Linked DNA regions of Homo sapiens. The protein of the gene in region 1 interacts with the protein of each later gene in a biochemical or structural test. Each region holds a gene or a part of one and is shown in the gene's direction. Other genes may lie near its edges.

Evidence for each region. Proteins that work in one complex are often made in the same cells at the same time.
Region 2: the proteins of GRID2IP (region 1) and PTPRZ1 interact in a test that uses a peptide from one of them, tested with the Homo sapiens proteins (one large-scale study listed by IntAct).
Region 3: the proteins of GRID2IP (region 1) and SLC2A3 interact in a test that uses a peptide from one of them, tested with the Homo sapiens proteins (one large-scale study listed by IntAct).
Region 4: the proteins of GRID2IP (region 1) and ABCA1 interact in a test that uses a peptide from one of them, tested with the Homo sapiens proteins (one large-scale study listed by IntAct).

The regions. Positions count from the first base shown.
Region 1 is NC_000007.14:6,496,278-6,499,461, reverse strand, and holds the end of GRID2IP (delphilin), read left to right. Parts: intron 1-1,233; coding exon 1,234-1,398; intron 1,399-1,616; coding exon 1,617-1,688; 3' UTR 1,689-2,684; downstream 2,685-3,184.
Region 2 is NC_000007.14:121,871,809-121,875,960, forward strand, and holds the start of PTPRZ1 (receptor-type tyrosine-protein phosphatase zeta isoform 1 precursor), read left to right. Parts: upstream 1-1,352; 5' UTR 1,353-1,691; coding exon 1,692-1,749; intron 1,750-4,152. UniProt on the Homo sapiens protein: Protein tyrosine phosphatase that negatively regulates oligodendrocyte precursor proliferation in the embryonic spinal cord. Required for normal differentiation of the precursor cells into mature, fully myelinating oligodendrocytes.
Region 3 is NC_000012.12:7,919,188-7,922,687, reverse strand, and holds the end of SLC2A3 (solute carrier family 2, facilitated glucose transporter member 3), read left to right. Parts: intron 1-1,056; coding exon 1,057-1,275; 3' UTR 1,276-3,458; downstream 3,459-3,500. UniProt on the Homo sapiens protein: Facilitative glucose transporter. Can also mediate the uptake of various other monosaccharides across the cell membrane. Mediates the uptake of glucose, 2-deoxyglucose, galactose, mannose, xylose and fucose, and probably also dehydroascorbate.
Region 4 is NC_000009.12:104,921,656-104,925,155, reverse strand, and holds part of ABCA1 (phospholipid-transporting ATPase ABCA1), read left to right. Parts: intron 1-2,613; exon of another isoform or gene 2,614-3,044; intron 3,045-3,500. UniProt on the Homo sapiens protein: Catalyzes the translocation of specific phospholipids from the cytoplasmic to the extracellular/lumenal leaflet of membrane coupled to the hydrolysis of ATP.

The DNA.
Region 1 (3,184 bases):
GAGACTCTGTCTCAAAATTAATTAATTAATTAATTAAAGGCAGCCTCTGCAAAGGAAATTGACCTGGCACATCAGACAGGCATAGGCCCAAATCCTGGCTCATTTCCTTACCTGCTGTGGGACTATGGGCAAGTCAGTTACCCTCTGTGAGCCCAGTTTTCTCATCAGGAAAAAGAGGGGTCATGAGAACCTCTACCACAGTGGTCATTAATTGATGTGACCCTGGTGGGTTCAACCGTGGCTCAGGCACCACAGTGCTTGCTGTGTGATCTTGGGCTAGTTGCTAAAGTCCTGTGTGCTTTAATTTGTTCACATGTAAAATAGAGATAATCTACCTCATAGAGGTGTTAAACGATGATTCAACAAGCTTGGAACAAAGCTCGGCACCATTTTAAGTGCTGAAAAAATGATAGCGATTCAGCCACTGAATCTTTTTGCAAGACTGACCATGTATCAGATGCTATTCTAAGCCCTGGAGGTGCAAGGAGGGAGCGAGCTTTCACTTAGGCAGTAGGAAATGAACTTATGAACAATTTCAGATCATGACAAATGCTCTAGAAAACAGAGTAAGGCCTAAGGCCAGGTGCAGTGGCTCACACCTGTAATCCCAGCACTTTGGGAGGCCAAAGTGGGAGGATCACTTGAGCCCAGGAGTTTGAGACCACCCTAGGCAACATACACCCCATCTCTATTTTAAAAATCAAAAAATTAGCTGGGTATGGTGGTGTAAACCTCTGGTCCCAGCTGCTCGGGAGGCTGAGGTGGGAGGATCACTTGAGCCTGGGAGGTAGAGGCTGGAATGATCTGTGAGCTGTGATCACACCACTGCACTCCAGGCTGAGCGACAGAATAAGACCCTGTCTCAAAAAAAAAAAAAAAAAAAAAAAAAGTAAGGCCTAGAGAGTGACAGAGGGGCCTACTGTAAATGAGTGGTTGGGGAAGAAGGTGGCAGTGGAAGCCTCTGATCAGAGACCCAGGGCCTGGCCCTGCAGAGAGAACAGGGGTGAATGGCCTGAGGCTGCACTGGCTGTGGCCAGTTCCAGGATGAGTTCAGTGGCCAGTGGGACTAGAGTCCCTGAACAGGGCCTGGTTCCCTGTTGGACACAGGGCCTGGCCCTTGGAAGGACTCAGGCCAACCGGGAATAGGGCTGCTAGGGACCTGTCTGTCGGGCCACCACCTGAGACCCTGGGGGCACAAGCGGGCTGGCTGTTTCCTTAACTGAGGCCTGTCAGTCCTTCCTGGAGACGGCCCAGCCAGCACTTCGGGCGCTCGACGGGCTGCAGCGCGAGGCCATGGAGGAGCTGGGCAAGGCGCTGGCCTTCTTTGGGGAGGATTCCAAGGCCACCACCTCTGAGGCTTTCTTCGGCATCTTTGCAGAGTTCATGAGCAAATTCGAGGTGAGCCTCGCTGGAGCCCTGAGGGGCCCTTTTGGAGAGGTGGGGGCCAGAGGCCAAATGAAGGGATCCTCCATGAAGCCAGGGCTGGGAAAGGGGCTCCAGTGAGCGACATGTCCCCCTAACCCCCTGATGGGCTGTCTAGTGTGGGAAGAGACAGGGAAGGCGTCACAGGTTCCTGGGACCACTGACCACCCTACCTCTGTGTTCCCCCTCCCCAGCGAGCGCTGAGTGACCTGCAGGCCGGGGAGGGCCTGCGCAGCTCCGGGATGGTTTCACCCCTGGCCTGGTGACAGTGGCCACACCGCGTCCTCTGCGGCCTGAGCAGGGAGATGGAGGCCGAGAGGGCAGCCCAGACACTGCCGAGGTCCGGGGCCACTGTGCCCCGGGCTCTGAGCACACCGCCAGCCTCTCCTGCAGCTACCTCAGCCGCCGAGCTGTGGTCGGGCCCTCCTCTGCCAGCCCTTGTTCCTACCCCCAGGCCCAGAGCCAGATGCTGTAGGAGCAGGTGCTGAGTGTGCCTGCACATGGAGGACCGTGCTCTGTCGGCTTCTTGGGCCCACTTCCCACTTCGCTCCCAGGCTGTCAGGGGGGCCTGGAGGGTGGATTACAAAGTGGCCACATTCCTGGGACATGTGGACCTTTTTTCTGATCCTGCTCCTAGTGGGTCCCTGTGAGGGGGCCGACACCCTTGAGCACGACCCTGCAGGCAGGCGCGAGACGCGAGAGGGCAGAAAGCCGGATGTAGAGGGGCCCTGGGGATGTGCACGCCCAGCCTGGGCCTTGGAAGCTGGCTTCAGGGACACAGGAAGAGAGAAGCCTGGGAGAGACGCAGGGAAGGAAGGACTGGAGAAGGAAGACCCCCTATGTCAGACTGCGGAATTGAGGTTTCATGCAGTGGACAAACCCAAACCTGTGTAGAGGTGGCCCAATTGGAAGTGGGGAGCCTGGGAGTGGAATAGGTGTGGTCAAGGTAGAGCAGACAGAATGGGGAGGTGTTGAGGCAGGAGGTGAGCAGGATCTGGTGGCCAACTGCCAGACTTCTCACCTGGACGGATGGTGATGTTCCCTGGAGCAAGTCATGAGACCGGGGCAGGTGTGGGGGCAGATGACACAATCTGGGATGTGTTTGGGACCCAAATGGTCATTTTACATGTGCCTAGGCATATAGCAGGAGTTACCTGGATACCAGGAGCAGGAGCAGGTGGCGTGGTGGGCAGGGAGGGAGGGTGTGTGAACTGTTTCACCTTTTTTAAAATTCTCTGATTGACAGATCCTTGGATCAGACAGCTTCCCTCGTTGCACTTTTTTTTTTTTTTTTTTTTGGAAAAGTCTGAAATGGGCTTTAATCCTGTCTCATGGATTCTTTTTCTCCCACTGCAATCAAATGGCTTACATTGCACCTGGGCAGTACTGGGAACCTGTTCAGTTCTTCCCAGTCTCCCCTAGGCCCCTCTTGGAAGCCACCTTTGTTTTTTTGTTCCTTGCACACAAGCACCATACAAAAACATCAAAACCAAAATATATACTGCAAGGGGGATGTGGCTAGTGGGGTACATTTCACCCTAGCAGCTCAAGCAGAATTGTTTCCAAAAGTTCCCAGTGCCTGTGTCTCTGGGAAACATGTCAGGAGGTCAGTTAAAACCTCTGCAGGCAGGGCGTGGGGGCTCACGCCTGTAATTCCAACACTTCGGGAGGCTGAGGCAGGTGGATCACCTGAGGCCAGAAGTTCAAGACCAGCCTGGCCAACATAGTGAAGCCATATCTCTACTAAAAATACACAAAATTA
Region 2 (4,152 bases), about 120 Mb from region 1:
ATGACTATAATCTATTCCTGAAGCAACAGCAAACTGCCATTAGCTTGCACATTTAGCCAAATGTTCACAGGCTGGGATATTAGCAAGAACTCGTAGTAACACTTGAAATACATTCAGAACCCAATTTTATGTGCAGGAAGTTTTCTTTAAAATTTTTAAAGCTAGAATACTATTTTTGAGACAAGAACAGGACACAAGAGTATACACTGTACAGATACCTACTTCAAATTGTTACTAAGAATACATGGGATAATTCCACAACTTGGCTTTCTGTGCCTTAGATGGGACTCCTAAAAGGCTCTAAAGTGGGTCTCATATACGAAAAACATGTACTAATAGTTAAAGGATATCATATAAATGAAAATCTCATAAATTTTCAGTGTAGAGACTACCACCAATTACCTTCTCATTATTTCCTTTTGGCTTCAAATTAATTCAACAAATATTCAGGGAACACCTATTGATTTTTTTTAAGGCCATTTTGCTAGGATCTGGGGTTATAGTAATAAAGGTAAACTCCCTGCCATCAAGGCGCTCACAGTCTAATTCTGAACACCACCAAAGAAAAGAGCACATGAGGGTGACATTTCCAGCTCTAAGGCAGCAGAAGGTATGCATTATACATTTTTTGCATACCCTTCAATCAAGCAATAAAAAATCTTCCCGTTCGACCCTGTGGGAGGAGGCACTTGTGTGGTTCGGTCTGGCAGGACCACCGCCGTGTTGAAAGTCCCCCCAGACAGCTGTGCCCAGCACGGCAGTTTCGTTGGGGTCTAGGGAAAGGGCAGGGTCAGACTGGTCACAATCAGGGCTGGAGATTTTTTGGAGTCAACTCTCCCAAAGGCAATGGGGTCTACTGCTTTATTAGGAAAATGGAAAGAAAAAAGGGAGGGAAACAATGTACCCAGGCGCCCCCACCGCATTCTGATTGGACCCACTTAAGCATCTGCAGAAAACAATAAAATGAAAAAAACTCTTAGAGGTGAAACTCAAAGGTCAACCTCTGGCTGTGCGGGACAATGGGTGTCCGGCCTTCCCTTCCCTTCCCTTCCGAAGTGATGAAGGAGTTCCAATGTTCTGCGAACACTGGAAACCCCAGCGGATCCCTCTAACTCCAGGGCAGCGAAACCACTGGCAGCGGACAGAGGGAGGATTGTCGGTGTGTGAATTGCTACCCTGGGATCCGGACCCAGAGCGGCAGCCGCGCCCCTCCGCCCCCCGCGCGACCCCGGGTCCGAGGCACGCTCCCAGCGGAGCGGTCCTGCGCCCCCGCCCCCTCCAGGAGCCGCGGCGCGCACAGCCGGGCTGGAGCGCGCACCCGGCACTGAGGCTTCGCTGCTCTCGGAGCGCTCAGACCGCGGCCGCCGCAGCCGGCGAAAGAGGCAAAGTCCCGCACGCCGGAGGACATGCGCCTCGGCTAGCGGCCCCGGGCCCCACCACCGTGCGGCTTTCTCCAGATTATTCCTCTCTCGCTGTCTCTGACTGTCTCTCTCTGTCTCTGTCTCTGTCTCTCTCTCTCTCACACACACACACACACACACAAACACACATACGCACGCACGATCTCACTTCGATCTATACACTGGAGGATTAAAACAAACAAACAAAAAAAACATTTCCTTCGCTCCCCCTCCCTCTCCACTCTGAGAAGCAGAGGAGCCGCACGGCGAGGGGCCGCAGACCGTCTGGAAATGCGAATCCTAAAGCGTTTCCTCGCTTGCATTCAGCTCCTCTGTGTTTGCCGCCTGGGTGAGTGAGAAGAGCTCGGTGGGGTTTCAGCTCCGGGATCGGTGGGATGAGGGTGGGAGCATTTCAGCGTGTCCGCGACTTGCCGCCGCCGCCGCCATCTAGCCAGGAGGAAAAAGGGACAGCCAACTGGGCTCCCACGGAGCGGGCGGCCGCGCGGTGCAGGCAGCTGCGTGGGATTTGCGCGCCCCCTCCCCGCCCCGCGCCCTCGCCCCTTCCATCGGCCCGCGGGCATTCGTGCCCCGGGCCCCAGGAGACGGAGCTACTGGAGACGGAGGGCTACTCGGATCCCTGCCGCCACCGTTCTTCTCTCCTCTTTTGCAAAGTGTAGAAATCGCCTTTTAGATATACATAGGAAGATAAATGACCAGAAATACAGCTGTGGTGCGGGGCTGTGTACTGTACTGTCTTTTTTGCTGTTCATTTTTATGCTATAGGTATGATGGGCTTAAATGGAAAGTACACGTGTCTGGTGTGAATTGCAGACACACACACACACACACACACACACCTGAAAGGTAGTAACAGGCACAAGCACCAACCTGACTTTTCAGGGTTTTTTTTATTACTTTCAATTTAGTCATATTCAAGTCTGCGCAATTACTTACAAAAAAAAAAGTTCCATCTAAATCTCTAGGTTTGGTCAGTGCTGCCAAAGTCAGAGGAGAGCTGCAGGTTGATATACTTATTCACAGATTTCATTTTTCATCTGCACCCTCCAGGTTACATTTAAAACTGAAATTGCATTCAGCAATAGCCAGTTTAAGCATTCCCTTTACCTGCGATGCAGACTCAAGTTTTCCAGTCATTTTCGAGAAGTGCAAGATTGGACTTTTGCGTTTTATTAAAGAAATGCTTTTTTTCCTTCATGATTTTCCATCGCGATAGAATATAATGGGTTTACGCATTAACCTGAAAGTTACAAAGTGTTGTACTTCGCTTTGTGAGTACACATATTTAATTCTTTTCAGAGGCTCCCAATTTTTCAATTTTAGATGGTTCATAGTAGAGTAGATATTAAGCGTACATTTTCATCCAATAGATGGTGCTGCTCTTGGCACAGTAACCTTTACAAACAGAAACTATTTTTAAGTTCTAATAAATGAAAATTACATTGCAAATACGGTGATAATTGCCCATAGACCCCCACACACGGACATAATTTAAATTTCAAAGGCTTTATGAAAGTGCTTGGGGTGGTGTGATGCATAGTTGACACATAAGACATGCAAGGGAATCTCTGGTCTCCATTGATTCTAAAACCTTATAGTCAGTTCTGGAGAGGGGAAGACAGCTTTAAAAAGTACGTGGTCATCAAACATCTGTTGAATTCACATTTCTATTGTAGATCTATTTTAACAAAGAAGGCAGGTCCTCTTAGTAATTAAATTATGTAAGTAAATATCACAGTAGCAAGGAAATAAACCAGAGAGTATTGCTTTGTATGTCTTCAAAACCACATGCCCAGAGCATGTTGCGGATCTCTTTGAAAAAAAAAAAAAGATAAAATTCACACATTATACAATTCATCTTTTTAAAATGGTCCAGTGGTTTTTAATATATTCGTGAAGTTGTGCAGCCATCACCACTAATTCCAGAATGTTTTAATGACCCCAAAAAGAAACCCCATGTTCCTTAGCAGCCATTCCCCATTCTCCATGACCCCAGCTCCTAGCAACCACTAATCTACTTTCTGTCTCTATAAATTTGCCTATCCTGGACATTTCATATAAATAGAATCATGCAACTTGTGGCCTTTTCTGTCTGTCTTTGTTCACTTGGCATAATGTTTTCAGTTTCATCCATGTTATAGTATGTATAAGTACTTCATTCCTTTTTGTGGCTGAGTAATATTCCATTATGCCAATATACTAAATATATCACATTTGCAAAGGTTTTTCTCTGTAAAGCATTATTTGTAGCCTATTTTTGGTTGTATAGTTTTCAGTTTGTTGGACATTTTCTTTAAGTCTTTGGTGATGTAAAATTTAAGTGTAAAGAATTTAATTAACTTTTAAAGACTATCACAAGCTTATGTAATGCTACTGAATGTAAGCTTGCATTGGAACTCCAAGTGAGTTTTGTTGAGACTGGAAGGTGACTACTTTTGTATTCCTCACCATTTTAACAAAGTTGGCCTTTTACACAGTTGCCAACAGGCTGACCTGGAGGCATTGGCAACATCAAGTAACATAAATATCTTGATCTTGGGGCAGCATGTTTTGAAAAAGTGAGGCACATTATCTTCAAATGAAAAAGTTAGGCTCCATTTCAATTATTTTTCACTCAGCACCTACTTCAGTGTTTGTGGATGCGTTTACCCCTCATCTTCAGTGTTCTTAGAGCCAATGAGGTAGCCTGACATATGTATTAAGTGCTCAGTAAGGGTCTGTCAACTGACTAAAA
Region 3 (3,500 bases), on another chromosome or scaffold:
TGGATCACCTGAGGTCAGGAGTTCAAGACCAGCCTGGCCAACATGGTGAAATTCAAAAATTAGCTGGGCATGGTGGTGCATGCCTGTAATTCCAGCTACTTGGGAGATCGAGGAAGGAGAATCGCTTAAACCTGGGAGGTGGAGGTTGCAGCGAGCTGAGATCGCGTTACTGCACTCTAGCCTGCTCGATGGAAGCAAGACTCCATCCCTAAATAAATAAAAAAATACAGCAGTCCCTCCTCTTCTTCAGTTTCAGTTACCTGTAGTCTAAAAATATTAAATGGAAAATTGCAGAAATAAATAATTCATAAAGTTTAATTTGCGGCCAGACACAGTGGCTCAAGCCTGTAATTCCAGCACTTTGAGAGGCCTAGGCGGGTGGATAACTTGAGGTCAGGAGTTGGGGACCAACCTGACTATCATGGTGAAACCCTGTTTCTACAATAAATACAAAAATTAGGCCGGGTGTCGTGGCTCATGACTGTAATCCCAGTGAGCGAGATCACACCATTGCGGTAGCACACACCTGTAGTCCTAGCTACTCAGAAGACTGAGGCAAGAGAATCACTTAAACCCAGGAGGTGTTCATGGTGAGCTGTGATCAACCTTCTGCTCTCCAGCCTGGGTGACAGAGCGAGATTCCGTCTCAAAAAAAAAAAAATTCATAAATAGAGATGGAGTTGCCCAGGTTAGTCTCAAACTGCTGGGTTCCAGTGATCCTCCCACCTTGACCTCCCAAAGTGCTGGGATTATGGGCGTGAGCCACCGCACTCGGCCCAGAAACACAGATTTTAAAAATAATACTCAAAAGTCCAAAAATACTCAGTAGACATTTGGAAGCATCTAACTGTAATGAAATGGAATGACAGAAAGAAAACTAGAGAGAACTACAGTAAGTTAGCAATGGAATCATAAGCGAATCTGAAGAAACCTGTTTTCATTAAATATGGAAGGGTTATAGCTTGAAGCCTATTGGAAATATGAATGTGAAGGAAATTGACTTTGTCAATGACCAGATTTTTATATCAACCTTCCTTTTTTCTGTCCTTTCTCTAGCACTATTTAGGAGCCTACGTTTTTATTATCTTCACCGGCTTCCTCATTACCTTCTTGGCTTTTACCTTCTTCAAAGTCCCTGAGACCCGTGGCAGGACTTTTGAGGATATCACACGGGCCTTTGAAGGGCAGGCACACGGTGCAGATAGATCTGGAAAGGACGGCGTCATGGAGATGAACAGCATCGAGCCTGCTAAGGAGACCACCACCAATGTCTAAGTCGTGCCTCCTTCCACCTCCCTCCCGGCATGGGAAAGCCACCTCTCCCTCAACAAGGGAGAGACCTCATCAGGATGAACCCAGGACGCTTCTGAATGCTGCTACTTAATTCCTTTCTCATCCCACGCACTCCATGAGCACCCCAAGGCTGCGGTTTGTTGGATCTTCAATGGCTTTTTAAATTTTATTTCCTGGACATCCTCTTCTGCTTAGGAGAGACCGAGTGAACCTACCTTCATTTCAGGAGGGATTGGCCGCTTGGCACATGACAACTTTGCCAGCTTTTCCTCCCTTGGGTTCTGATATTGCCGCACTAGGGGATATAGGAGAGGAAAAGTAAGGTGCAGTTCCCCCAACCTCAGACTTACCAGGAAGCAGATACATATGAGTGTGGAAGCCGGAGGGTGTTTATGTAAGAGCACCTTCCTCACTTCCATACAGCTCTACGTGGCAAATTAACTTGAGTTTTATTTATTTTATCCTCTGGTTTAATTACATAATTTTTTTTTTTTAACTTTAAGTTTCAGGATACATGTGCCGAATGTGCAGGTTTGTTACATAGGTATATATATGCCATGATGGAAATATTTATTTTTTTAAGCGTAATTTTGCCAAATAATAAAAACAGAAGGAAATTGAGATTAGAGGGAGGTGTTTAAAGAGAGGTTATAGAGTAGAAGATTTGATGCTGGAGAGGTTAAGGTGCAATAAGAATTTAGGGAGAAATGTTGTTCATTATTGGAGGGTAAATGATGTGGTGCCTGAGGTCTGTACGTTACCTCTTAACAATTTCTGTCCTTCAGATGGAAACTCTTTAACTTCTCGTAAAAGTCATATACCTATATAATAAAGCTACTGATTTCCTTTGGAGCTTTTTTCTTTAAGATAATAGTTTACATGTAGTAGTACTTGAAATCTAGGATTATTAACTAATATGGGCATTGTAGTTAATGATGGTTGATGGGTTCTAATTTTGGATGGAGTCCAGGGAAGAGAAAGTGATTTCTAGAAAGCCTGTTCCCCTCACTGGATGAAATAACTCCTTCTTGTAGTAGTCTCATTACTTTTGAAGTAATCCCGCCACCTATCTCGTGGGAGAGCCATCCAAATAAGAAACCTAAAATAATTGGTTCTTGGTAGAGATTCATTATTTTTCCACTTTGTTCTTTAGGAGATTTTAGGTGTTGATTTTCTGTTGTATTTTAACTCATACCTTTAAAGGAATTCCCCAAAGAATGTTTATAGCAAACTTGGAATTTGTAACCTCAGCTCTGGGAGAGGATTTTTTTCTGAGCGATTATTATCTAAAGTGTGTTGTTGCTTTAGGCTCACGGCACGCTTGCGTATGTCTGTTACCATGTCACTGTGGTCCTATGCCGAATGCCCTCAGGGGACTTGAATCTTTCCAATAAACCAGGTTTAGACAGTATGAGTCAATGTGCAGTGTAGCCCACACTTGAGAGGATGAATGTATGTGCACTGTCACTTTGCTCTGGGTGGAAGTACGTTATTGTTGACTTATTTTCTCTGTGTTTGTTCCTACAGCCCCTTTTTCATATGTTGCTCAGTCTCCCTTTCCCTTCTTGGTGCTTACACATCTCAGACCCTTTAGCCAAACCCTTGTCAGTGACAGTATTTTGGTTCTTAGTTCTCACTGTTCCCTCTGCTCCTGGAGCCTTTGAATAAAAATGCACGTAGCTGAGGCCGGATGCGGTGGCTCACGCCTGTAATCCCAGCACTTTGGGAGGCCTAGGCGGGCGGTCAGGGGTTCGAGACCAGTCTGGCCAACATCGTGAAACCCTGTCTCTACTAAAAATGCAAAAATTAGCCGGGCGTGGTGGCGGGCGCCTGTAATCCCAGCTACTTGGGAAGCTGAGGCGGGAGAATCATGTGAACCCGGGACGCAGGGGTTGCAGTGAGCGGAGATCGCATCATTGCACTCTAGCCTGGGCCACAGGGCGAGACTCCGTCTCAAAAAAAAAAAAATGCACATAGCTATCAAGTGTGCTTTAGCTTGAAAAGGTGACCTTGCAACTTCATGTCAACTTCTGGCTCCTCAAACAGTAGGTTGGCAGTAAGGCAGGGTCCCATTTCTCACTGAGAAGATTGTGAATATTTCCATATGGATTTTCTATTGTTACTCTGGTTCTTTGTTTTAAAATAAAAATTCTGAATGTACACGACATTATGGGCTTATTTACTTTTTGTCCTTCCTGTAACCACAA
Region 4 (3,500 bases), on another chromosome or scaffold:
CCACCCGCCTCGGCCTCCCAAAGTGCTGGGATTACAGGCGTGAGGCACCGCGCCCGACCCCTGGACACATTTTGACTTAGAACATATTTTCGGTTTGTGTGAGACAGTGCATTAGTGCAGGATTGGAAAAGAGTGATCAGGAATTGATTGTTTTCAAGGATTGGTTCCTTCTGCTCAAGGAAGTCCCATTGTAAACATAAAAAAATGAATGAAACTGAAGAAGTTCAGTGACTTAGCTTTTTATTATCTTCTGTAGTACTTACCTTTTTGGAGAGGAGTTGGTTGGGATATTTTTCCATTTAAATTTTTTTTTTAAAGGGATCTTCTCTCCCGTAAGCCGGGATACTTAAGCTATATATGTAGTGGCTACAAATTAAGGTCTTCACTGTTTTCATTTTTAGCTGCTAGAATAAGTGAACATTACCTTAGATAGACTCTTCTAATTATGAAGATATCTAGATGTCTAGAAAATATCAAAATGCATGTGGTTTTTGCATTTCTAAAATACTTTTAAAACCAAATACTTTTTCTTTTTTTTTTTTTTCTGAGATGGAGTCTTGCTCTTTTGCCTAGGCTGGAGCGCAGTAGAATGATCTTGGCTCACTGCAACTTCCGCCTCTCAGGTTCAGGTGATTCTCCTGCCTCAACCTCCTGAGTAGCTGGGATTACAGGTGCGTGCCACCACACCCGGCTAGTTTTTGTGTTTTTAGTAGGGACAGGGTTTCACCATGTTGGCCAGGCTGGTCTCAAGCTCCTGACCTCAAGTGATCTGCCAGCCTCAGCCTCCCAAAGTGCTGGGATTACAGGCATGAGCCACCACACCTGGCCTCAAATACATTTTTTTAAGTATCCAGATATTAAATAAATAATACCATTATAGTAGTTGTTATGGTCATTTACTCTAGCATCAAATGTTAAAAGATCATTCTGAACACTTGTTTTGTTTATGCTGAGAGAAGGCCTACTCCAAAAAATGCAACCATCTTCGTATCTGCATGTGGATACAACCATGAATGGCCAAAGTTATTGCAGTGTTGAATAGACACTTATATAGCACTGTGTGGCAAGTACTGTTTGAAATGTTTTTCACGTGTTTATTCATTGTATTTATTTTGAGATAGGGTCTTGCTCTGTTGCACAGGGTGGAGTGCAGCTGCACAGACAAGGCTCACTGCAACCTCAGCCTCCTGCGCTCACGTGATCCTCATACATCAGCCTCTTAAGGAGCTGGGGCCACAGGCACGCACCACTGCTCCTGGCTAAATTTTTACAATTTTTTGTAAAGACAAGGTCTCACTATCTTGCTCAGACTGGTCTTGAACTCCTGGGCTCAAGTGATCCTCCCACATCAGCCTCCCAAAGTGCTGGGATTACAGGCATAAGCCACTGTGCAGGTCATCAAATGCTAATTGAATTTTCACAACAAAACCATTTATTGTCCCTAGTTTACAAGATTAAGTAAATGAGAAGCTAATTTTTCTCTGGCTATATACCTTGCAAGAGGCAGAGCTAAGACTTGAACCCAGCCAGAGTTCTTTAACTCCAGCACTAACATTTCAGCTGCTGCAACCAGGGAGCTTTTCAAGGATGATCACCACATTCTCTACATTCATCTGCTATAATCCTTATCAGAATCTACAGCCTGTATCATATTTTCCTTGTTGCTGTGAGTGGGTCAGCCAAATTCTCTTTAACTTGAAACCTTGGTTGCGTAGGGATTGCAACATCCTGGAAAGAATAGAATAAAATTTACTCAACTCAATTTTTTACTTGGTTCATAATGAAAACTATACTATTGCTTCAGTCAGATGTTTGCGAATAGCTGTGTGATCTCAAAATGTTTTCCTATGTGATCTATAGAAAATGGAATGATAGAGTATTAGGCTGTAAGGGCCTAAGAAACAAAGGAAAAAGAGAAGTGAACTGTTAGTTTAGTTGTAAAACCTAACTTTGGTGAATTGTAAAAATTTGTTATAATACAATATGATTCTTGCTTGTCCTGTCCTTGATGAAGTTGTGGACCTTTTGAAATAAGCTATTTCTCTGTTACTGCTGTTACTGTTTAGAAATCAAATTTAGTTTTTTCTTAAGATATACGTATTTTTGGAAGATAAACACAGTTTCAAAGTCTGCCTTGTTGGCTGGGTGCACTGGCTCATTGTTGTATTCCCAGCACTTTGGGAGGCCAAAGCAGGAGGATCACTTGAGGTCAGGAGTTCAAGACCAGCCTGGCAAATATGGTGAAACCCCGTCTCTACTAACAATACAAAAATTAGCTGGGCGTGGTGGTGGGTGCTTGTAATCCCAGCTACTGGGATTGGGAGGCTGAAGTAGAAGAATTGCTTGAACCTGGGAGGCGGAGGTTGCACTGAGTCGAGATCGTGCCACTTTACTCCAACCTGGGCGACAGAGTGAGACTCCGTCTTGAAAAAAAATGTCTGCCTTGTAAAAGTGAAATAGGATGAGAAAGTGCCTTTCTTATTAATTGGTGTAATGAATTAGAAATAAACTCTTTGAAGACACCTCTTGGTAAAAATAGTTACATTTACTGTTGATTTATGGTATGTTGGATATGTTTTTAAGTTTTCCGTGTAATAACTCAGTTCATTCTCATGAGTGAAATAGGTGCTTTTATTGTCTTTATAGATGGGAAACTGAGGTATAGGCAGGCTAGGTACATTATTATGGAGTTCGTAAGTAGTGGAGCTGAAGTCGCATCCCAGACAGTTTGGCTTCCGTGAGTTTACCAATCTCATGGTAAAGACTTTGTCAGACTATCAAAGTTTTGACAAATGAAATATTAGCAAAAGGCCAAAAGGGATTCTCTATTTTCATTTGAGTATCTTCACCTGAAAATAGTTGCCTGAATAAGTAGCCTGCATAGAAAGGTACATTTTAGAAATACTTGAGGCCAGAGAATGAAAAGCTTACATAAAATTGATTTCCGGTGGGGCCTTCAGTTACTCTCCATTCTACGAAGACCACAAATAGCATTCAGGCAAAGAGCATTTATTCCAACAATGGAGGAGCACTGGATTTGGTTCCTAAAACAAAATAAAGTTTGAAATCCTGTCTTTCCCATGTTGAAAACAAAGTTGGTACAAAACCCTTTAGCTTTTGCAAACCTCCTTTAAGACCCGATTTAAATGCTTCCCTCCTCATGAAGCTCTTCTGGATCCACTCCTTCCCATCACTAAGTTGAAAGTAAGATCCCCTTCTCTTTACTTCCATTAGACTTGGATTACAGCACTCTTTGTATCATGTATTTAATTCTGTTTTTTAATTACAGTTAACATTTATTTGTCTTCCTCTTGAGTGTATGCTTCTCTAGAGGAAGGTCTTTGATTCATTCTCCCCTGGCCTTAATTCATCCCACTTAATATGGAAAAAATTTAATAAATGCTGACTTGAATAAGTCCAACAAGGAGAATGGGAAGCTCATGTTTGCTTCCTGTCTTCTAAAAGACTACTTAAGATAACAGGGTAATCACAGAAAAGCA